Linked DNA regions of Homo sapiens. The protein of the gene in region 2 interacts with the protein of the main gene of each other region in a pairwise test. Each region holds a gene or a part of one and is shown on either strand. Other genes may lie near its edges.

Region 1 (12,058 bases), on a different chromosome or scaffold from region 2:
GCTCTGTCGCCCAGGCTGGAGTGCAGTGGTGCAATCTTGGCTCACTGCAAGCTCCGCCTCCTGGGTTCACACCATTCTCCTGCTTCAGCCTCCCGAGTAGCCTCCCGCCGCCACGCCCAGCTAATTTTTCTTTTTTAAATATTTTTAGTAGAGACGAGGTTTCACCGTGTTAGCCAGGATGGTCTCGATCTCCTGACCTCGTGATCCACCCACCTCGGCCTCCCAAAGTGCTGGGATTACAGGCGTGAGCCACCGCACCTGGCCAATCTCTGGTTTTCTCACGCCACTATTTACATTCTACACCCAGCCCATGTGCTGCCAGTCCAAGAAATTACTAAACTAGTAATCATAGCTGTACTTTATTAGTGAAATCACAAACAACCTAAATGTTTATCTGAAGAACTAAATATTTTTGTCAAGAAAAACATAGCAAATACACAAGATTATTTCAATAACAGAGATTTATCTACTTACTTTGCATCCTGGTCCTTATTCTTGCAGTTTGTGGGGCCCATTCCTGGGGAGTTTTTTGATATCCTGAGCCTGAAGCAAATACATATATCAAAAGATAATTTCCCATACTTTGAAAGTTTATACCATATTCCAGTGTTATAAAATTAATCTATCAGAAAGACAAAATAAAGTAGGGGAAGAAAACAATAAAAGCAATAGTTTTATAAGTAAAAGATAATTTCAAAGGATCGTATCAGTGAGGATGAACCACTTCCTACAGCAAAGCAGGTAGCAAATAAATATATTATCACATAATACAAATTACTTGTGGTAAAATAGCCCTGAACACATTTCCATATCACAGAGTAATTATTATAGGTAGTACCAATCCGTGGTGAATTAAAAAGGTAAAGAGGGGTAAAATGACTTAAAATCTTATTACAACTTTTGTTGGGAGAATAAGGCAAGGTTAGAATTGATTGACTGAGGCTGGGTGCGGTGGCTCACACCTGTAATTCCAGCACTTTGGGAGGCCGAGGCAGGTGGATCATGAGGTCAGGAGATCAAGACCATCCTGGCTAACACAGTGAAACACCGTCTCTACTAAAAATACAAAAAATTAGCCGGGCGTGGTGGCGGGCGCCTGTAGTCCCAGCTACTTGGGAGGCGGAGGCAGGAGAATCGCGTGAACCCAGGAGGTGGAGCTTGCAATGAGCCCAGATTGCACTCCAGCCTGGGCGACAGAGCAAGACATCGTCTCAAAAAAAAAAAAAAAAAAAAAGAGAAAAGAATTGATTGGCTGAAAAAAGAGCAGACAACCAACTACTTACTTAGCACTGAAGGTTGCTTATCATGAGCTGTGAAGTTTTGACCTGAAACAGAAAACAGGGATAAGGTCATAGAATACTTGAAAATAACAACAAAAAAGATGTTGCACAGACATTTTGCTTGTTTACTGTGGATACTAAAAACAAACAACAGACAAAAAACATTCTCTCATCAATTCCAAGCATATAAATATATAAAGTATATATATATAAAAAACATACATATACTATATATATACATATATATACATATATATATATATATATATATATAAAGTGTGTGTGTATTTCTTTCCCCCTCATTTCTAAACTTCAAAATGTTTAGGAATTGGGCAACAATAAGGAGTTAGTTTAGGATCAGTACCATCAAAATAAAAACTACATATAGTCATATATATCAAGTATAATTTTGTTTAATTCTTTTTTTTTTTTTTTTTTTGAGACAGGGTCTGACTCTGTCACCCAGGCTGGAATGCAGTGGCACAATCTCAGCTCACTGCAACCTCCGCTTCCCAGGTTCAAGATATTCTCCTGCCTCACCTTCCCAAGTACTTGGGATTACAGGTGTGCACCACCATGCCTGACCAAATTTTTTGTCTTTTTAGTAGAGACAGGGTTTCCCCATGTTGGCCAGGCTGGTCTCAAACTCCTGACCAGGGTTTCACCATGTTGGCCAGGCTGGTCTCAAATTCCTGACCTCAAATGCTCTGCCTGCCTCGCCCTCCCAAAGTGCTGGGATTACAGGCATGAGCCACCATGCCCAGCCAATTTTGCTTAATTCTTATGTGGTAGATGCTATTACTGTTCGTATTTTATAAATAAGGGAAAATCAGCTGGATGCGGTGGCTCATGCCTGTAATCCTAGCACTTTGGGAGGCCAAGGCAGGTGGATCATGAGGTCAGGAGATCGAGACCATCCTGGCTAACACGGTGAAACCCCGTCTCTACTAAATATATAAAAAATTAGCCAGGCGTGGTGGTGGGCGCCTGTAGTCCCAGCTACTCGGGAGGCTGAGGCAGAAGAAGGGCGTGAACCTGGGAGGCGGAGCTTGCAGTGAGCTGAGATCACACCACTGCACTCCTGCCTGGGCGACAGAGCGAGACTCTGTCTCAAAAAAAAAAAAGGGGGGGGGGGAACCAAAATTGGTAATTTTTCCAAAATTATATATCTAAAAGTAGTTGGGCTGAGATACAAATCCAGGCAGTCCATATCATATACCACATACCATACCATAAAGAAATGGTATGTACTATCTATGCAGATTTATGGACATTGCAAAGTAGCTATGAAGTAAAACATGCTACTTCAGGTTTTGAGGTGGTATTTAAGGATAACTGTAAAATGACACAATGGGATGACTAAAAAATGACATTACAATTATAACAAGGTAAATTTTCAAATCTGCCCTGAGAAAATGAGTTACTCTTTGATGATAAATACAAGTATCGATTTACATTTATTTATTTTCAACTTTTTCTGAATACAAACATGTGCTAGCTGTTTAAAAAAAGGGGCCATTCTAGAAATGCTTAATTTAAAAATTCATGAATATCTATCTGTTAAGTATCTACTATGTGCAAAACATTGAACATAGAAATATTATGGTAAATAAGACAGATATTCTCTCAGCTTTGTTTTCAGCCTATACTAAAAATATACTTTTAAAAAAGTGGATACATACGTTTTAATATTTTCATCAAATTCTAAGACATACTTTTTAAAAAATGCCCTTTGATCTACAGATATATCTTTTAATTAATGGTATGGCATAGTTTAACTGGATGGTTTTTCTTTCTCATTGATACATAAAATCAATAGTATCTTAAAGTCAATGAAATATATCTTGATCAACTTTTCATTAGGATACAATGAACTAACTCATTTTTCATTTCTAAATAGTATTTCTTTTTTTTTGAGATGGAGTCTTGCCCTGTCACCCAGGCTGGAGTGCAGTGGTGCAATCCCAGTTCACTGCCGCCGTTGCCTGTTGGGTTCAAGCGATTCTCCTGCCTCAGCCTCCCAAGTAGCTGGGATTACAGGCACCTATCACCATACGTGGTTAATTTTTGTATTTTTAGCAGAGACGGGGTTTCACCATGTTGGCCAGGCTGGTCTCAAACTCCTGGCCTCAAGTGATCCACCTGCCTTGGCCTCCCACAGTGCTGGGATTACAGGTGTGAGCCACCGTCCCCAGACTAAATAGTATCTCACTGCATGGGTATAATATCATTTATACGGGTAGATACATTTAAGAGTTTCCAAAGATCAAAGATTTGGAGTAAAATAGGGCAAATACATAAAATAATTCGAAGAGTAATTTTCCACAACTGATTTTTTCCCAGCAGCTAATTCATTTTATGTCTCATTTTATAGTCACAAACCCAGAACCTATTAAAAATTAAAATAAAAAATATAAAATTGAATTCTAGAAATACAATGATTTTAAAAAAGATTTCCAAAGGCTTTTTCTTTTTTTCTTTTTTCTTGAGACAGGGTCTCACTCTGTCGCCCAGGCTGGAGTGCAGTGACACAATCTCGGCTCACGGCAAGCTCCGCACTGCCCCCTCAGGTTCACGCCATTCTTCTGCCTCAGCCTCCCGAGTAGCTGGGACTACAGGCACGCGCCACCACGCCCAGCTAATTTTTATATTTTTAGTAGAGACGGGGTTTCACCATGTTGGCCAGGATGGTCTCGGTCTCTTGACCTAGTGATCCGCCTGCCTTGGTCTCCCAAAGTGCTGGGATTACAGGCATGAGCCACCACGCCTGGCCTTCCAAAAGTTTTTTCTTAAGAAAAGAAAGTAATGTGGAAGAAAAAAAAAGTTCTTGAAGATTTTTACATACAAAGATATTTTTGGTTGATTAATAACTAACTCAGATTTTGGGAGACTTGATTTAAAAATGTCAAAAGAAAAAAACAGTAGTAACAAAATAATAAAGGTGGCTGGGCGCAATGGTTCACACCTGCAATCCCAGCATTTTGGGAGGCTGATGTGGGAGGAATGCTTGTGCCCAAAAGTTTGAGACCAGCCTGAGCAAGATAGTGAGACTCTGTCTCTACAAAAAATTTAAAAATTAGCTGGGCATGGTAGCACGTGCCTGTAGTCTTAGCTACTCAGGAAACTGAGGCAGGAGGATCCCTTGAGCCCAGGAGTTCGAGGCTACAGTGAACCATGACGGCACCACTACACTTGCCTGGGTAACAGAGTGAAAACCTGTCTCAAAAAAAGAAAAAAGAAAATAATAAAGTTAAAAAAATGTCACCAATGATTCTTAAGCAAATCATTATTAGCATTTTGGTATATGACTTTCCAATCTTTTTTTGTTATACTTTCTCAATATTTGATCACAAAAATTTTCAGTTGTAAGACTGAAATGAATATTTATATACCCATAACCAAGCTTGCCATTAACTTTTTATTACATGTGCTTTATCACTTATTTATTCATCCTTCCAAACTTTTACAACAGAGTTGAAATTGTACTAATATAAAATTTTATGTCCTTATTAGAATAAGTGCATATAAATAGGCTCAAACTACTACATTAGTCTGTTAAAATAAAAGCAATCAACCCATTTATACTGCTAGCAAAGACATTCAACAAATCACAGGAAGTAGTAGTTTTTTGTTTGTTTTTTAAGTTCAAATTCAGGTTTGGGTATAGAGAATAATAACTCAATAAGCAAGGTCAAGTGGTAGAGAGATATCGGATAAGTTTTTTTTTAGCATTCATTATTCCTCTTGTTCAATATTTACGTTAAATTTCAAAAGAGGATCTTCAAAAATAGGAACATCATTTGACCAAGCTCACAGGAAGACACTGTAAACACAGCTTTACTTACTTTGTGATGACTGCCAAAATGATTCTATATATTGACTAGATGATCTGGTGGTTTTATCTAAAAAATAAAAAACAGTACACTATAAATAATATCCAACTTTTAGACTGTACATTTTACAAGACAACAGTGAGAAATTAATAAAAAGAGCAAAAATATTCGGGTAACTCCCAGGTGGTTAAAAACGTGGATGCATAATTTATTTAAAAAATTTCTAGGCTGGGTGCAGTGGCTCTTGCCTATAATCCCAGCACATTGGGAGGCTGAGGCAAGCGGATCACCTGAGGTCAGGAGATTGAGACCATCCTGGCCAACGTGGTGAAACCCCGTCTCCACTAAAAATACAAAAATTATCTGGGCGTGGTGGCGCGTGCCTGTAATCCAAGCTACTCGGGAGGCCTTAGGGCAGGAGAACTGCTTGAACCAGGGAGACAGAGGTGCAGCGAGCCGAGATCGCACCACTGTACTCCAGCCTGAACAAGAGAGTGAGACTCTGTCTCAAAAAAAAAAAAAAGGTTAAAAAAGTTTCTAAAGAGTCATGTCACATCTAAAATATTAGCTAATAACCACTTAAAAAATTGTTATGATACAGAACATGCCCCAAGGTAATGACATAATAAAACCTTTGAGTTGCGGAAAATTTTCAAAGTTTACAACAGTGGAGCATCTTGAAATCATTAATATCCATTTTTGCTTTAAATTTTTATTGCAAGTGGGCAATATTTTTGTATACTCTTTTTCTTTCTTTCTTCTTCTTCTTTTTTTTTAAGAGATGGAGTCTCACGTTACTGCCCAGGCTGGTCATGAACTGAAGGGATCCTCCTGCCTCAGCCTCCTCAGTATCTGGGACTATAGGTACCTATCACCATGCCTTGCTTTCAGTCTACTCTTCTTAAAAACATTTTTTCCCAAATAAAAGTAGAATTTATAACTAAATTAGTTTAAAAGTGATCAGGTTGCTGTTTTGGAAACAGACACATTGATACAAAAAGGTGAAGTGCCCATATTTTTTTTTTTTTTGAGATGGAGTCTCGCTCTGTTGCCCAGGCTGAAGTGCGATCGCGCAATCACAGGACCTGAGGTTTATGTACTTCCAAATAGTTATGCTGGTAGCAATGGCAGCAAACTATTGGCTATATAAATGGCTTAATTAACCTCTAATTTTTAGAGCTTCATGTAATATGTATGAACACTAATAACAGCACTTAGTGTTTACTATGTGCCAGGTAAGTGCTTTGCATATATGAATTAATTTAACCCCCACAACAATCCAGATGACAAGACTGAGGAACACAGAAGTTAAATAACTCTCTAAAGGCAAACAGCTAAAAAGTGAAGGAATGGAACCCAGAAATTCTAGCTAGACACTACCAGCGTGTTACAAATCTCCATTTCTGTATCAAGAATTCATAGGAAAAATGAGGAAGGGTGGGAAACACACAGAATACCAAATGCCCAACAACCAGCGTATAATGCCAGGCACGGTGGCCCACACCTATAATCTCAGCACTTTGGGAGGCTGAGGCAGGAGAATTGCTTAAGCCTGGGAGGTCGAGGCTGCAGTGAGCCATGATCGCATCACTGCACTCAAACCTGGGTGACAGAGAGAGATCCTGTCTCAAAAAAATAAAAACAAAAACCAAACCAGCTTATGTACTTATTTTTAAAGTGAAATGATGAGGTAAAGAATAGGAATTACAGGTCAGGCGTCGTGGCTCAGGCCTGTAATCTCAGCACTTTGGGAGGCAGAGGCAGGTGGATCACCTGAGGTCAGGAGTTTAAGACCAGCCTGGCCAACATGGTGAAATCTCATCTCTATTAAAAATACAAAAATTAGCCAGATGTGGTGGTGCGCACCTGTAATCCCACCTGCTTGGGGGGCTGAGGCAGGAGAATCACTTGAACCCAGGAGGCAGAGGCTGCAGTGAGCCGACATTGCGCCACTGCACTCCAGCATGGGTGACAGAGTGAGACTCTGCCTTAAAAAAAAAAAAAAAAAAAAAAAAGAATTGGAATTACAGAAATTTTAAGGAGGTGGTGAAGGGAAAGTGCAGGACTAAAGTATAAAATTACTCATTATTTACAGAGTTTACAAATTTGTTTAGCATTATCTTTTTTGGGGGGGAGGGTCTTGTTCAACATTATCTTAAGCCTCAAACTGGTATTTTTCTCTCTTTAGTCAACTCTTTCATTGAATAAACTTAAATTCACATAAACAATCAGAACTTGTTAATTAATAATTTGGTTTGAATTTGAAAATCCAGAGATAAAGCTAGTTATATAATTAAATGAAAACTTCCTAAAAGTAACACTCCAGATAGTGTTGTCAGTCCCAATGGCAATGTGATTAGTTTCTCTATAAAATTCAAAAAACAACAAGTAACTCTTCTTTTGAGCACAAAAATATCTTATTTTCCACAAATATCAAAAAAAGCTAAAAGTGATTTGTTTAGATATCATGACATAGTATTAATCGGATGAACACGAAATCAGTAATTTTAATAAATATTTAAAGAAAAATTCACGACTTTTTATAAAGTATTAATAAAAATTTGAAAGTTTTTTTTAAAAAGCAAATTCATGGAATACCAAAGATAGTTCTATGAGAAGAGTCATATGTATATAAAGCAATATTACCTCCAGATTCATCAGAATCCCTGGATCTGGCCTTAACAGTAGTGACACTGCTGTGAGAGCTGTCTTGATCATCTTCTTCAGTTTCTCCTAAAGAGAAGTAAACAATATACTAATATAGTCTATTTTAATGCTCAGAAGATCTGAATTTAAAAAAACCAAGCAAATAATTTAACATTAAAAGAAGCCTTTTAAGTTATCAGATATAGAACTACTGTTTGTTTATCATGCTTATTATTTTGAATCCCAAAGTTCCAAAGGAACTAAAATTTATCTCAATTTGTGTCCTCTGGGGCACATAATACTTTCCTAAACAAATATTCAGAGTAATATCTAAAAAACTATAAGGCTTTAATGTAGAGTCAAAAATGAACAGATGAGCGTTAAACAGTGGAAAAAGTTTATGGGGAGGAAAACTACATATAATTAGTGTGTAGTTAAATTCAGATGTGTATTTGTGTGTGTGTGTTGGTGGTAGAGGGGTAGTGTACACACACCTGCACACAAACATTCTATTATGCAGGTGACCACCCTCAGATTATGCTGAGCTTCAACAAAAACTAAATTTTATTCCTGTACTTTTCAAACATAAACTGGTTATGAGAATTTGGAAAACTGATTACTTTAATACCATAATAGAAAATATTATCTTTGCTTAAAATGAACCCAAATAGACAAAAGATGCTTAAAATGTAAGGCTGTCATCACTCATTCTATCTGTCCTATTATTTCTGCCCAGTTAACAGTTCAGATAAGCATGAATTTTTTTTCTTGAAGAAAAACACATTATTTTCTGTTCTAACTTCTTTTTGTTTTTTTTTTTTTTAAGAGATGGGCTCTCACTAGGTTGCCCAGGCTGGAGTGCAGTGGCCATTCACAGTTGCAATCCCACTACTGATCAGCACGGGAGTTTTGACCTGGTCCGTTTCTGAACTGAATGGATTCACCCCTCTTTAGGCAACATGGTGGTCCCCCGCTCCCGGGAGGTCACCATATTGAAGCCAAACTTAGTGCAGACACCTGATCGGCATAGTGCACTACAGACAGCCCAGAACTCCTGGACTTAAGTGATCTTCCTGCCTCAGCCTCCCGAGTAGCTGAGACTACAGGCATGTGCCACAGTCCCCGGCTCTGTTCCCACTTCTTAAATATCTATCAGAATGGCTTCTAATGTAAAGAAAAAGACTTAAAGTATATATTATATGATATTTACAAGTAAAATACCTTCTTCAGAGAAATTGACCTTCTGTTGGACACTGGTGGCTTCTAGAAGAAAAAAGCATACATCAAATATTAAACATATAACATCAAAAGTTAAAGCTTAGGAATAAACAAAAGCTTAGGAAAAAAGTTAAAGCTTAGGAATAAATAAAAGAGCATCTCGTTTAGGAAAATGAACATGAGGACACATTAAATAAATTCTTTTTCTGTTAAATCACTAAGAATTGGCCGGGTGCAGTGGCTCACGCCTATAATCCCGGCACTTTGGGAGGCCGAGGTGGGTGGATCACTTGAGGTCAGGAGTTTGAGACCAGCCTGGTCAACATGGTGAAACCCTGTCTCCACTAAAAATACAAAAATCAGCCAGGAGTGGTGGTGTGTGCCTGTAATCCCAGCTACTCGGGAGGCTGAGGCAGGAGAATAGTTTGAACCTGGGAAGCAGAGGTTGCAGTGAGCCGAGATCGCGCCACTGTATACCAGCCTGGGCGACAGAGCAAGACTCTGTCTCAAACAGAAAAAGGAAATGAAGTGTTTAATTTTCCTTCAGTCACAGGTCTATTTTTACTCTAAAATGTAACCTTTGTATGCAAAAAAAACATTAAATTCTACATTGACAAATATTCTAGTGTGTATAGGTTTGCTATATTCTCATTCTCTTATTTGCCAAATCCCCTATACTCCCTTTAAAAACCAACTACACTAACTGGACTGATAACCCAGTTCTTTCGAGCATTGGTGTATCCAAAGAGGAAGAAAGGTAAAGAAACTTCTAGTTCTGGCGGGTCCATGTATGTCACTGTTTTCCAGTGCAAAAGAGAATTTGAACAAAAATAAACAAGCAAAACACATCAAATAAACTTGGAACATAGTATTTTTACATGGGCTATTCTGAAACTTAAAAAAAAAAAAAATAGTGAGATGTACCCAAATGCAGGTATTTCACAATTGGGTTAAAATATCGCTGAAGGATCATATGTAGAGAAGTAGCATGATTTAGACTTCTTCAACAAAGCTGAGAAAATTTCAGCTTTTATCTCTACTGATTTTAACCTCAATTTGCTTATTAAAAGGGACAATAGTATTATAGAAAGCAACTGCTAACACATTATACGGTGAATTTGAAAATATTTATTTTAAATCCATTTAATTAGATTAGTATAATACTAGTCAAGCTTTGAGTTCCACTGAAAATACTTCCTCTTGACAGTGGCAAGTGCAAATCAGTATCTGAAATATATTTGCCAACATTTTTTTATTTAAAAAAAAAAACTAACCCAGAGAAAACTGCTGATAACACCATGTTACTCTTAAAGAGCTAGACTCTGGTGTATTAAGTACTATTTTGCTCTAGGTTTCTTAGGAACACTGTCCTTTCTTTTTCTCTTTTTTGAGGGAGAAAAAGGAAAAGTCAAACGAAAAAAATTTTTTTTAAGATTTTAATTTAAAACAAGAGATGGGGTTTTACATCATGACCAGGCTGGTCTCAAACTCCTGGCCTCAAGCAATCCTCCCATCTCCTAGCCTGTAATCCCAGCACTTTGGTCTCTTAAAGTACTGAGACTGTAATACAGGCATGAGCTCCACAGCTGGCCAAAAATTTTTAATTAATATTTCCATTCCTACAAAAAGGTATTGTTCTCTTTTTGAAGTTTTATTATCTAAGTGCATAATTATTATAGTACTTCATATTTTTGTATAGCAGTTTTACTTTATTCATTTATGTAACTATTCACATAGCATGCAAATACAAGATGCTTTCTTAAGAATCAATAATCATATTTTTGTTATTATCTTAAAATGCTAAGTCCTTAATATTTGCATGATGCTATTTGATTTTCAAAAAACCCTTCATGAATGTCATCTGATTCCCATCTCATCATAAGGGAAGATTTTCATAAGTAAGGTTCATAGATATCAAGTGACTTGTCTAAGGGTATAGGTCTAATTTAATAATAAAAAAAGCCAGAAGACCGCAGGTTCTTCTGACTTCCAGTCTATTACAATCCTACCACCTCATCAGTCTTGTTCATAACAGCACATAGTAAACACTCAATAATTTTTTTTTTTTTGAGACATGGTTTGGTTCTGTCGTCCAGGCTGGAGTGCAGTGGTGTGATCTTGGCTCACTGCAACCCCTCCCTCCCAGGCTCAAGCCATCCTTCCACCTCAGCCTCCTGAGTAGTTGGGACTACAGGCACATGTCACCACACCCTGCTAATATTTATACTTTTTGTAGAGACAAGGTTTTGTTTGCCATGTTGCCCAGGCTGGTCTCGAACTCTTGAGCTCAAGTAATCTGCCTGCCTCAGCCTCCCAAAGTGCTGGCATTACAGGTATGAGCCACTGCACTTGGCCAATTTTTTGAATAGATGAATAAAGAAACGGCTGACAGCTGAACTTTTCCTAATATGAGAGGTTCCAATAAACTTCTAAGTGTAATTCATGTAATACAGTAGGCTTTACTAAGGTCCCATTTATATTTCAGTGTTATGTTTTACATAGTTACTCTAAAAATTATATGGTAGACAAAACCTCTTTAACTAGGGCTGAATAGATTTTAGAATCTATAATAATGGAAAGGATATGTTGGAGATTTACATTCATTTGTTGAGCTATCAGAATAGTACAGTACAGTACACAGTACAGTAGTATGACTAATACAGTAATCCCTTTTTTCGATAGGTATGTTTTATCTGTATACATTTGAAGATATGTTTTATTTCTGTACACATTTGAAGTTCCAGGTCAATTTGTCTAGAGCCAATTCATTTAACAGTCATTTCTCCATATACCAAGTTGCCTAAAATTCAATCTTTTTTCTGCTTATCTATGTGTTATCTAATTAGCATGGAGAGATGGTTTAATAATTATTTTTTAGCCAGCTTACATAAGGGAGCTCCCCATTTGATTTTAATACTTCTAACATGTTATTATATTTGAAGTATCTAATAAATCATGGATTCTATCCATTTTTCAACACTTTTCAGACTTCTGGATTTAATCTAGTGACTAAAGATCCTTTTTTAGAATTCTATGTTCCTAACAATAAATATTTATCAATAGTATTCAAAACAAGAATAA
Region 2 (12,420 bases):
AGGCAGTGATGACCCAAAGTGAGTAGGGCTGGAATGAAGGAGTCCAGAGGAGACACCTGACCCAGCCTGGGGGATAGAGGGTAGTTTCAAGGGAGCCCAGGAAAGATCCCTATGATAAGATTACGTTTGAGCATAGACCTGAATGAAATTAGGAATGGAGCCATGTGGAGATTCCAGTCAGAAGGAAGAGCAAAATGCAAAGATCATGGAAAGGGTGGCTTTGGGGCGTAGCAAGGCCAGTGTGGAGGAGGTGGGGGCAGGGACAGAGAGAGTGCCTTGTGGGCTGTGATGACAATTTGGGTCTCTACTCTGAGACTGAAGCCACTGGACAGTTCTGAGTGAAGGATGGGCAGAATCTGGCTTAAGGTCCTCAGGATCCTCTGCCTGCTGCATGGACAATAAACGAGATTGAAGGGAGACACTAGGAACGCAATGAGGAGGTCACTGTAGTGGTCCAGGTGGAAGAAGATGGCGTCTAGTATGGGCTGGGGACAATGGGAATGGGGAGAAGTGGTCAGATTAGGCTATGTTTGAAAGGTCGAGGCTGGGCGCAGTAGGTCACGCCTGTAATCCCAGCACTTTTGAAGGCTGAGGTGGGTAGATCGCCTGAGGTCAGGATGAGACCAGCCTGGTCAACATGGTGAAACCTCTCTCTACTAAAAATACAAAAGTTAGCTGGGTGTGGTGGTGCGTGCCTGTAATCCCAGCTACTCGGGAGGCTGAGGCAGAAGAATCGCTTGAACCCGGGAAGCGGAGGTTGAAGTGAGCGGAGATCGTGCCATTGCATTCCAGCATGGATGACAGAGTGAGACTCCATCTCAAAACAACAAAAACAAACAAAAAAAGAAAGGTCAAGAGCCCTCGGTGATGGACAGGATAAGGGATATATAATTTGAGGGAAAGAGCAGCCAAGGGAGACTCCAAGGTTTTTTTTTTTTTTCCTGACAGGGAAGACCACGTGAATGGAATTAAGGGATAGTTGCATTTTCTAATTTTTTTTTTTTTTTTAAGACGGAGTCTCACTCTTGTCGCCCAGGCTGGAGTACAGTGGCATGATCTCAACTCACTGCAACCTCCGCCTCCCGGGTTCAAGCAATTCTCCTGCCTCAGCCTCCCAAGTAACTAGGACTACAGGCGCGCACCACTGCACATGGCTAATTTTGTATTTTTAGTAGAGACGCGGTTTGGCCACGTTGGCCAGGCTGGTCTCAAACTCCTGATCTGCCTGCTTCAGCCTCCCAAAGTGCTGGGATTACAGGCATGAGCCACCGTGCCCGGCCTTGCATTTTCTAATTTTTTAAAAAGCACATTTACTTATTTATTTACTTTGAGGTGAGGTCTCGCTGTATTGCCCACGCTAATCTTGAACTCCTGGACTCAAGATATCCTCCCACCTCAGCCTTCCGAGAAGCTGGGATTACAGGCCCACGCCAACACGCCCTACTTGCATTTTTTATTTTCTCTGACCACTGTCACTCCAATTTAGTCAGGCCTCACCAGCCCCCAGGGTCTTTCCTGAGCCTAGATTAACACTTGAGTTTCAAGAGAAACCCCCTAGTCTCTAGGGTGAGTACTTACTAAATGACTTAGATAGGATTAGAGTGGCCAAAGAATTCTGTTAAATCCCTGGATAAAATGAAATTAAGGGAGGGCCAGTATAGGGCCTTGTTTTCTCCATCAGGAAAAAAAAAAAAAAAAACAAAAAACAAGGGAGATTTGGTCATATTGATGCAATCCCCATTTTTGTAAAGTGGCCAGTGAAGCTGGCAGGTCAAATCTTTCCTCGGGCTGGGTGCAGTGGTTCACACCTGTAATCCCAGCACTTTGGGAGACTGAGGGAGGCAGATCACCTGATGTCAGGAGTTTAAGACCAGCCTGGCTAACATGGTGAAACCCTATCTCTACTAAAAATACAAAAAAAATTAGCTGGATGTGGTGGCACGCATCTGTAATCCCAGCTACGCAGGAGGCTGAGGCAGGAGAATCCCTTGAACCAGGGAGACGGAGGTTGCAGTGAGCGGAGATCACGCCTCTGCACCCCAGCCTGGGCCACAGAGTGAGACTCTGTTTCAAAAAAAAAAAAAAAAAAATCATTTCCTTGGTGCAAGCTGGAGGGTGGAGGAAGAGGGAGCAAACTCTGGTCCTCACCCGTGCCCCATGTAGAAAGGCAGACTGTGGAGCCAAGGTGTGACCTGATAAGAAACTGGTTTAAGAAAGATCACACAGGGTGTGCCCAGGAGGGTAGAGGCAGGCGTTATCCATTGTCCCTGGTGACCTGGCCCCAGAGGCCTTTATCCTTTCAGTCTCCAAGGCAAGGATTTCCGAAGGTTTCAGGGAAAAATGCCCAAGCCCATCCCCCACGACTTGAAAAACTAGTCTGTTAGATTCAAGAGCCCAACACTTAGGTCAATGGCAGGGGCAGGGGTTTCACAGACCTCCCTCCTGGTGGCCCCGGTGCTCCAGAGAGGAGATCAGCTCAGTGGACAAACATTTGGCCAACTCTTCACAATTGCCAGGGTGTGGAACCAGCTGAGTTGTCAACAGAGAAGCCGCCAGACCTAATTAATTAACCAAGGTGTTGACGTGTCCACAGACACACACACACATACAGACATCATCGGCTGCTGAATCTTGATGCAAATTAGCTAAATGGGGCCACCCGAGAGGGTCAGAACCCCAAGCACAGAATCTCTCCCCTCCCCTTCTCCCCTGGGGCCGGTCAGTTTCCTTTCAATTCCGCCCTGACCACCCATTGCTCTCCTTTTCTTATACTAAGTAGGTCCTCCCGGCCCCCAGGCGTCCACTCCCCACACCGCCCTGGGCGTTCGGACTGGACCTTCTTCCCACCTCCAGGCTCAGACTGAGCGAGCGATTCCGCTCCAGGTAAAGCGGGATGACTGCCACCGATGCTTCTGTTATCGTGGCCATTTATTATTTTCCGGAGGGGAAGTTTTTCTCCTTCTCCCTTCTCCTCACCCCACCCGCGTGGGGCATTCCCGCTGCCGGCGATCGGGATCAAACAGTCCCTGATAGGAGCGTCTGGGGACCAGAACGTCCCTCCAGCCGGCGCTGCAGGCGCGGTCCTACCTCTTTCCGTCACTCAGGGCGTTGCACTGGGGTGAGCGTCCAGAGCTGGGGCCGGGGAGAGGGAACCTGCTGGCGACCCCCCACCACCTTGTACTCACCGAGGTCCGCGGCTACTGGTGTCCCCACTTCCGCCGGCGCCCCCGCTGCAGAGGCCCGGGCAGGCCGCAAGCCGCGGAGCCTGGGTTCCGCCCGCGCCGCCGCCACTGCCCCACGTGGTCGCGGGCTGGCTCGCAGGCTTGGAAGCCAGCACAGCCCGGGTCGCCACCTGGCCCGCGGCTTTGCGGGGCACTTGGGACCGATCTTCCTGCCTGCGAGTTGGGGGCGTCTGGGATGCCCATTTTAGGCAGGAAGAAACTGAGGTTCAGAGAGGGGAAGACTTCCTCCCTGCTGGGTTAAGGGCAGAGCTCGGTCTTTGCATCCCCATCCCCCTACACATACCCACTCCTAACCCCTTGCTTCCAGTGGGAACCCCCGCTCCTCTACAGGAAACCTGGAGATCATGGTTTCAGATGCCGCATACTAAGAAAGTAGCTGGGCTGGATCAGAGGCGGTCATTTTGTCCTCCAGCTCTCCCTGCAGTCCCATTTTACAAAGGGGGAAACTGAGGCCTTGAATGGGGAATATGAACCTCCCTATTCCAGGCCCAGTCAGAATTCACTTTCTCCTTGCGGGGTCCTCTTTACGCAGGGATCCTGTGGGCCTTTGCTTTCCACTAGATCACCAAGGCCTAGTGCCAGGTACACAATTTGGTGCTCTGCAAATATCTGTTGAAAGAATATCATCAGACACATAGTAGGTGCGCAATAAATATTTGTTGACTTAACTATGAACGAGTAGGGGTTGTATTTATGAACAAGACAGACTCCCATCCTGCCTCCTAGAACCTACGTTCTAGTGGGGGTAGAAGGGACAGAATAGGGTAAAATGAGCAAATATGTAAACAAGATCCTTCAGGGTTTGATCAAAGTGATGTATAAAGAATAAAATAGGCCGGGCACGGTGGCTCACGCCTGTAATTCCAGCACTTTGGGAGGCTGAGGCGGGTGGATCACCTGAGGTCAGGAGTTCGAGACCAGCCTGGCCAACATGGTGAAACCCTGTCTCTACTAAAAATAGAAAAATTAGCCGGGCATCTGTAATCCCAGCTACTCCGGAGGCTCAGGCAGGAGAATCACTTGAACCCGGGAGGCGGAGGTTGCAGTGAGCTGAGGTCGTGCCACTGCACTCCAGCCTGGGCAACAAGAGTGAAACTCCATCTCAAAAAAAAAAAAAAAAAAAAAGAGTAAAATAAGGGCAATGGGATAGTGGGTGGCTGGGTTGCCATGGAACTTAAAATTGGGTGGTCTGAGGCTGAGTGCAGTGTCTCACACCTGTAATCTCAGCACTTTGGGATGCTGAAGCAGGAGGAGCGCTTCAAGCCAAGAGTTTCAGACCAACCAGGGCAACAAAGCGAGTCCCTGTCTCTATTTAAAAATAATTTTTTTTGAAAAATTAAAAATTACAAAAAAAAAAAGGGTGATCAGAGGAGGCGGCAGTGAAGAAGAAACCACCTCAGATAACCCTCTAGTTCCAACCTGCCCTACCTCCTTTGACAGATGGAGAAAGTGAGATCCAAGAGGGAACTGGGGACAGATGGAGGTCATGGAGTGTAATTTGCAAGGCCTTCAGCAGGGTGGGGCTACTTTAGATACTGTTGGTCAGGGCCCTCTGCTCTCAGGAGGACAATGGAACCCAGACCTGAATAACAATGTGCAGAACTCCAAGAGATCAGCATCTGAAATCAGCATCTGGGCTGAGGACAGCTGGGGGAGGACAGGTTCTTGCCCTGACCTCAGGGGGCTTGCATTGGGTGGGGGAGAGGACAGTCCACAAGCCGTTCTATACTGTCGTGCAGTCGGTGCCAGGAAGAAAAGAATACTCATCAGGGATTGAGGGTGGGGCAGGGTGTCGATGCCACTTCAAACAGTGAGCAGACAGAACTGCTTAGGGGAGGGAAGTTCAAGGAGGCGGAGTGGAGGCAGGTGAGCTGCTTGGCTATTTGGTTTTAATGGCGACTTCTGGTCTAGGAACAGAGTCGATGTGTATGATTACAGTCCTCCTCTGCTCAAAACCCTCCTAAGGCTCCGGTCTCAGGAAAACCAAAAGACCTTAAAGCGATCAAAAGATTGCTTGGATCTGCCCCCATATTTTCACTGAACTCAATCCCCAACCCGTATTGCCTCTCCCTTTCCTTGTAATTCCTCAATGCCCAGGCCCACTGGCTGGGCTTCCTTCCCTCCAGCCTCAGCTCCACCATGCCCTTTCCCATCATAGGGGAGAAAATTGAATCCCTCAACCCCAGTAACCCTCTCCGCCTTTCCAGCTTTCTTTTGCTCCATGGCACTGGTCATCATGAAGGGCCATCTATATTTTACGTAATTATGTTTATAGTGTCTTCCCCCACCGTCTGAACTCCGTGCAAACAAAGATTATCTTCTGTTTATTCCCTCCTGTATTCTCAGGGCTTCAAACAGAGCCTGGCGCACAGGAGGCACTCAGTGAATGCTTGCAAAATGAATTTTTATTGTAATGCATTTAATGAAATAGCCCAGATTACTATCAGGCACCTAATAAGAAACGTGACCGACTATTTTTCTCGCTTGGGGGTGCGTGTGGGCATGCCGTGTCTCAGTTTCACCCGCCCTAAAACGGGATCAGGGATAGCTGTTTCAATGCCTTGTGGGAACTCGGTGTGATTAAATTTGGTCACTAAGCCAAACGCACGGGACACTGCCTAGATTGAGTTAGGCCGCCGTCAGGGCCCCAGCAGGGCGGCTCGGTCCCCTCCCATGAGCCCCGCCCTGGTAGGCGGAGCCACGGGCCCGGCCAGCACGTGTAAGAGTTCGCGGCGGGTCGCCGCAGTCACTCACCTGAGCGCGCACGGTCCGCGCGTCCTCCGCTCGTGCGTCCTCCGCCCGCCCGCCTGCCTGCCTGCCCGCCCGCTCGCTCGCCCGGCCCGCGACTCATGTCCCGCCGCAAGGCCGGCAGCGCGCCCCGCCGAGTAGAGCCCGCGCCCGCCGCCAACCCAGACGACGAGATGGAAATGCAGGACCTCGTCATCGAACTCAAGCCCGAGCCAGACGCGCAGCCCCAACAGGCCCCAAGGCTGGGGCCCTTCTCCCCGAAGGAGGTGTCCTCGGCGGGGCGGTTCGGCGGCGAACCCCACCACTCCCCTGGCCCCATGCCCGCCGGGGCCGCCCTCCTCGCCCTCGGCCCGCGGAACCCGTGGACCCTGTGGACGCCGTTGACCCCGAACTATCCCGGTGAGCACCCCGGGCCCTGGGCCCAGCCTCCCTTACCTTTGACCCTCGGGTGGGACCCTTCCCTTTGGGCATGGGCCCCTCGCCCTGCCTTATCTCCTTCGCCCCGTCCTGCCCCTCAGGCCCCCTTCTGACCTTCGGTTTCCCCTCTCCTTCAGCACCCTCAGCCCCCATCCTGGCCCCACCCCACGCTCACCACCCGCTTCCTCCCTGCAGACCGCCAGCCCTGGACCGACAAACACCCAGATCTGTTGACCTGCGGCCGCTGCCTGCAGACCTTCCCGTTGGAGGCCATCACTGCCTTCATGGACCACAAGAAGCTGGGCTGTCAGCTCTTCAGAGGCCCCAGCCGCGGCCAGGGCTCAGGTGAGTAAAGCCGGGTGCAGTCCCCCTCTCAAGTTCGAGGGCTGGGCTTCCTGCTGGAAAGGGGCTGGGCTGGACGGCAGGGCACTGAGCACTACTTCCCCTTTCTCGCTCCCCATCGGGTGCAGCCTAGGCGTGGCCAGGGCCTGCCCGTCCTAGGGCAGGGACCAGTGGTGGCGGTGGAGGGGGGGCGGGGGGGGACTGGGCAGGGAAGGAGGGCCGCCTACAGGGTGTGGCCAGCCCCAGAAGACTAGCCCGGGATTTTGCCCCCCCCAACACACACCCCAACCTGGTTTCACTTCTCCTTCCCCTTGGCCAGAAATAACTGGCCAGGTGGCTGGACCAGGGTGGCAGTAGGAGGGGACCTCTAGGGAGGGCAGCGGCCGGGGGGAGGGGGAGTGGAGGCCAGCTGGAATGGGGAGGTTGCCACCCCCTCCTGTCTCTCTCTGTCAATTCTGATTGAGGTGCTAGTACAGCTGAGTGTTCAGAGCCAAGGAAGGGGCTTCTGGCTTCCCTCGGTGATGGAATCTCCCAGCCCCGCGTGCTGGGAATCCCCTGGTTTGAGCGAGCTCCCGGGTGCTGGACACCCGGGTTCCTTCTCTTGGGAGGGAATTAAAAGCCTTCACATGGGGCTTGACCCTCGGTGAGCTTTTGGTCAGTGTTGGCTGCAGGGCTTAATCCAAACCTAGTTTCCAGCCCCCTGGCCCTTGCCCTTCTGAGACTTTTGAGAAGTGGAATTATTTAGGGTTGGGCCAGGGAGGGTCTGGTGGTGGGAAAGAGGAGGGGCTTGTGACTGATTGAATCAGCTTTAGAGCTGGAGCATGGAGAGTGGCCTGGAGGAGCGAGCGAGGGGCTGTGATGGAATCGCTGGAACAAAACACTACAGGGCTTGGAGAATCATGGGCACCTTGGTTTCACAGGCTCTGCTGTTTGAGCGCTTATGTGGACCAAAGCTCTCAACCATTCCCCAAGCGAGGTCACAACCACCCTTGAAAGGGAGGGGATCTCTAGGGTCCCTGAATTCTAGCAACTGAGGCACACAGAGGACTATGTCTTGCCCAAGGTCACACAATTAGGGAGCAGAGAAGTCTGAATTTGAATGCAGGCCTGTGCTCTTGACCCAGGACTGGTTGTATCACAAAGGTTGTCCCATCCAAGACTCTAGAATTTGAAAAATGGAAAGGCTAGTTCACCTAGGAAGTGTCCACTGAGAGTACCCCGAAGGTCCAGATAGAAATCCAAATTCAGGTTTGGGGGCTCAATTTGAGATCCATGCAGAGGGTGGGGGACCCAGGTCACTACCACCTCTTTACTAGGTGGCCGCTAAGCTTTCTCTGTAGCTACCCCATTATTTTGAGGTGGAGTCTTACTCTGTCACCCAGGCTGGAGTGCTGTGGTGCAATCTCAGCTCACTGCAACCTCCGCCTCCCAGGTTCAAGTGATTCTCCTGCCTCAGCCCTCCAAGTAGCTGGGACTACAGGCGTGCACCACCATGGCCAGCTAATTTTTGTATTTTTGGTAGAGACAGGGTTTCACCATGTTGACCAGGCTGGTGTCTCAAACTCCTGACCTCAGGTGGTCCACCTGCCTTGGCCTCCTGAAGTGCTGGGATTACAGGCATGAGCCACCATGCCCAGATATCTCAATTACTTTAAAAATTATTTTTATTAAACCAAAAAAAATTTTTTTTTTTGAAACAGAGTCTCGCTTTTGTCACCCAGGCTGGAGTGCAGTGGTGGGATCTCGGCTCACTGCAACCTCCGCCTCCTGGGTTCAAGCGATTCTCCTGCCTTAACCTCCCAAGTGGCCGGGATTACAGGCGCGCACCACCACACCCGGCTATTTTTTATTTTTACTAGAGACAGGGTTTCATCATGTTGGCCAGGCTGGTCTCAAATCCCTGACCTCAAGAGATCAACCCGCCTCAGCCTCCCAAAGTGCTGGGATGACAGGTGTGAGCCACCGTGCCCGGCCTAAACCAAAAATCTTATTCAAAAGCCTCTGCTCCCAGCCAGGTATGGTGGCTCACGCCTATAATCCCAGCACTTTGAGGGGCTGAGGCGGAAGGATTACTTGAGGCCATTAAGTTAAAGAATAGCCTGGGCGGCCGGGTGCGGTGGCTCAAACCTGTAATCCCAGCACTTTGGGAGGCTGAGGCGGGCAGATCATGAGGTCAGGAGATCGCGACCATCCTGGCTAACACGGTGAAACCCTGTGGCGTGGTGGCTGAGGCAGGAGAATGGCGTGAACCCCGGAGGCAGAGCTTGCAGTGAGCCGAGATCGCGCCACTGCACTGCAGCCTGGGCGACAGAGCAAGGCTCCGTCTCAAAAAAAAAAAAAAATAGCCTGGGCAACATAGCAGGACCCCATCTCTTTAAAAAATACTAAATTAAAAATTTAAAGCAAAAAAAAAAAAGCAAGCAAGCCTCTGTTCTGCCCTCTCCCCCTCCCCCAGTAGTCTGGATTGAAATCCCAGCTTCACCCCTTCCAAGCTGTGCAACCCTGGGGAAATGCCTCTCTGTGCCTCAGTTCTCCTGTCTGGAAAATGGAGATCTTATTTTCCTGTCCTGAGGGAAAGCCGGGCTATGAGCCATGGCTCAGCACCTAGCATGTAGGAAGCGCTTACTGAGTTAACATAACTTTTTAAAAGATTTTCAAACACATGGCCCAGCACAGTGGCTCATGCCTATAATCCCAGCACTTTGGGAGGCCGAGGTGGGTGGATCACTTGAGGCCAAGAGTTCGAGACCAGCCTGGCCAACACGGTGAAACCCCCATCTCTACTAATTAGCCAGGCATGGTGGCGGGCGCCTGTAATCCCAGCTACTCTAGAGGCTGAGGCATGAGAATAGCTTGAATCCAGGAGGTGGAGGTTGCAGTGAGCTGAGATCGTGCCACTGCACCCCAGCCTGGGCGACAGTGAGACTGTCTAAAAAAAAATGTTTTCAGGTACTTAGCACCCACTCCACAGATTTTTCGTGTCCACCCCTCCTCTGAGCGTCAGCTTCCTGGTCCTTCCAGGGTGTGTGTGTCTTGTTACTGCCAAGTCCTTTGCCCCTGCAGGAGTGCCTATCCCACAGAAGGTGTCCAGCTGGCAGCTGTCCGCACTAACACTCTGCCTCTTTTTCTTACCAGAACGAGAGGAGCTGAAGGCCTTGAGCTGCCTGCGCTGTGGCAAACAGTTCACAGTGGCCTGGAAGCTGCTGCGTCACGCCCAGTGGGACCACGGACTGTCCATCTACCAGACAGAATCAGAGGCCCCGGAGGCCCCGCTCCTGGGCCTGGCCGAGGTGGCTGCAGCCGTGTCGGCAGTGGTGGGGCCAGCAGCTGAGGCCAAGAGCCCCCGTGCAAGTGGCAGCGGCCTCACCCGGCGGAGCCCCACCTGTCCTGTGTGCAAGAAGACCCTCAGCTCCTTCAGCAACCTCAAAGTGCACATGCGCTCACACACAGGCGAGCGGCCCTATGCTTGCGACCAGTGTCCCTACGCCTGCGCCCAGAGCAGCAAGCTCAACCGCCACAAGAAGACCCACCGGCAGGTGCCGCCCCAGAGCCCCCTCATGGCCGACACCAGCCAGGAGCAGGCCTCTGCAGCCCCTCCGGAGCCGGCTGTCCATGCTGCTGCCCCCACCAGCACCCTTCCATGCAGCGGTGGTGAGGGGGCTGGAGCCGCCGCCACAGCAGGTGTCCAGGAACCCGGGGCTCCTGGCAGTGGGGCTCAAGCCGGCCCTGGTGGAGACACTTGGGGAGCCATCACCACGGAACAAAGAACTGACCCTGCAAACAGCCAGAAGGCATCACCCAAAAAGATGCCCAAGTCAGGGGGCAAGAGCCGCGGGCCCGGGGGCAGCTGTGAGTTCTGCGGGAAGCATTTTACCAACAGCAGCAACCTGACGGTGCACCGGCGCTCACACACCGGGGAGCGCCCCTACACCTGTGAGTTCTGCAACTACGCCTGCGCCCAGAGCAGTAAGCTCAACCGCCACCGCCGCATGCACGGCATGACGCCTGGCAGCACCCGCTTCGAGTGCCCCCACTGCCATGTGCCCTTCGGCCTGCGAGCCACCCTGGACAAACACCTGCGGCAGAAGCACCCTGAGGCGGCCGGCGAGGCCTGAGCCCAGGAAAGCCCCCCTCACTGTCCCTGGTACCGCTGCCAACACCCATTGACCTCCTCGTTTTTGCCCGCCTTCTCCAAGTAAATTTTCCCTTTTATTTACACCCGTCTGGACTCTGGCTTTCTTGGGGTGCATGAGGTGGGGCAGGAGGCTTCCCCTCCGTGGGGTGGACGGCTGGACAGACCGGTTTGGAGTGAGGGGGTGAGGGAACGGCCAGCCCCCAGTGCCTGGGGCGCAGCAGGACTGGCACAGAAAGCTGCGCTCCCAGTTCCTAGTGCGGGCGAGGCCAGGGCAGGGGCTGAGGCGAGGGCGGGGAGAGGCCCGGACCTGTCGCCAGAGGCCCTGGGCAAAGGGGCCCATGTGGGACATGCTGGGCCGACACCCTATGTCCACATCTGCGGGCAGGTCTGGGCCCTCTCCCTTGGGACTGTGCCCTGGCCTCCTGAGCAGGCCTCACTGAGCCATGGCAGGTTCTGATGAACAGGGGCCTGCCACTTAGCCATCAGATGGGGGCAAGATGTCCCACACAGGCAGCACTGGCATCTGGCCTGTAAACCCAAGCGCCCTCCCAGCTGGCTCTGCTGGCCCATGGGCCCTGGGGTGGGAGAGCCCTGCACCAACCACACAGATGACACTGAGACAGGTGACGGGAATTAAATAACTTTTGACTTTATTTCACTAGAGATAAAACCAGCAGCATCACAGCTTGAGCCCCTTACCCACCCCCTTGTCCTCCCCACCCCCCACTCTTCTGCCTAATGTCGGTAATGGGGGCTTCGGGATCGGGACCTTGAGCGCCTGGAAAGAGAAAGGGAGGGGCCGTGAGGATGGGGCATACACACATCAACACACCTGGGGCCGTGGATGCTTCAGTGATCGGGGCACTTGTCTGTGGAGGGAAGGATGTTCCCCAAGGGATGAGACCAGCCCCTCCAACTGGAGGTGGGTACAGGGTGAGGCTGGAGGAATGACAGCCAGGACCTCCCATCAAAGGACAAGTGTTACTTCCAAGAAAGTGGAGGGTCATGGGCTTCCTTACCTTCGAGAAGAGCTGTATTCTCGACCTGGAAAGAAAACAACAGGTGAAGAGCGAGCAAACATCCAGGGCCAGGGCCTCTTCCTTGACCTGGGGTGAGGTCCTCAAAACTGAACTTCAGGGGTTGTCTCCAAATGAGGGGACATTTCCAGAGAGTCCAGTGGCTGCCATCTGTGCCCCTCACCAGCCCATGCCGGAATGAGCACTTCTAATTGCTGCAATCACCTTGTGACTAAAGCAATCTGTGTGTGTGTGTGTGTACGTATGTGTGTCACCATGTTGGTCAGGCTGGTCTCGAACTCCTGACCTCAGGTGATTGATCCACCCACCTCAGCCTCCCAAAGTGCTGGGATTACAGGCGTGAGCCACCGCGCCCGGCTGTACTATGGTTTTTTTGGTAACCCTGCTTGACACTTTTCTTTAAAGCCCCAGAGCCCTGCAGCCTGGTGGGGACACTCACTGTATCGGGGGGAGGGTGAGCGGCTCTGCCGGCTGTACTGGCGTTCCCACTCTTCTCTCT

The links.
Region 1: the proteins of ZNF296 (region 2) and TOR1AIP1 interact in binary tests that used the Homo sapiens proteins (3 or more experiments, as listed by UniProt).

Annotation. Positions count from the first base shown.
Region 1 is NC_000001.11:179,897,090-179,909,147, reverse strand, and holds part of TOR1AIP1 (torsin-1A-interacting protein 1), read right to left. Parts: intron 9,023-12,058; coding exon 8,981-9,022; intron 8,887-8,980; exon of another isoform or gene 8,584-8,886; intron 7,847-8,583; coding exon 7,760-7,846; intron 5,183-7,759; coding exon 5,126-5,182; intron 1,326-5,125; coding exon 1,284-1,325; intron 544-1,283; coding exon 475-543; intron 1-474. UniProt on the Homo sapiens protein: Required for nuclear membrane integrity. Induces TOR1A and TOR1B ATPase activity and is required for their location on the nuclear membrane. Binds to A- and B-type lamins. Possible role in membrane attachment and assembly of the nuclear lamina.
Region 2 is NC_000019.10:45,070,045-45,082,464, reverse strand, and holds ZNF296 (zinc finger protein 296), read left to right. Parts: upstream 1-5,986; 5' UTR 5,987-6,091; coding exon 6,092-6,389; intron 6,390-6,602; coding exon 6,603-6,752; exon of another isoform or gene 6,753-6,838; intron 6,839-9,884; coding exon 9,885-10,864; 3' UTR 10,865-10,965; downstream 10,966-12,420. Other genes in the region: CLASRP (CLK4-associating serine/arginine rich protein), read right to left, coding at 11,620-11,662, 11,904-11,928, 12,361-12,420. UniProt on the Homo sapiens protein: May be a transcriptional corepressor with KLF4.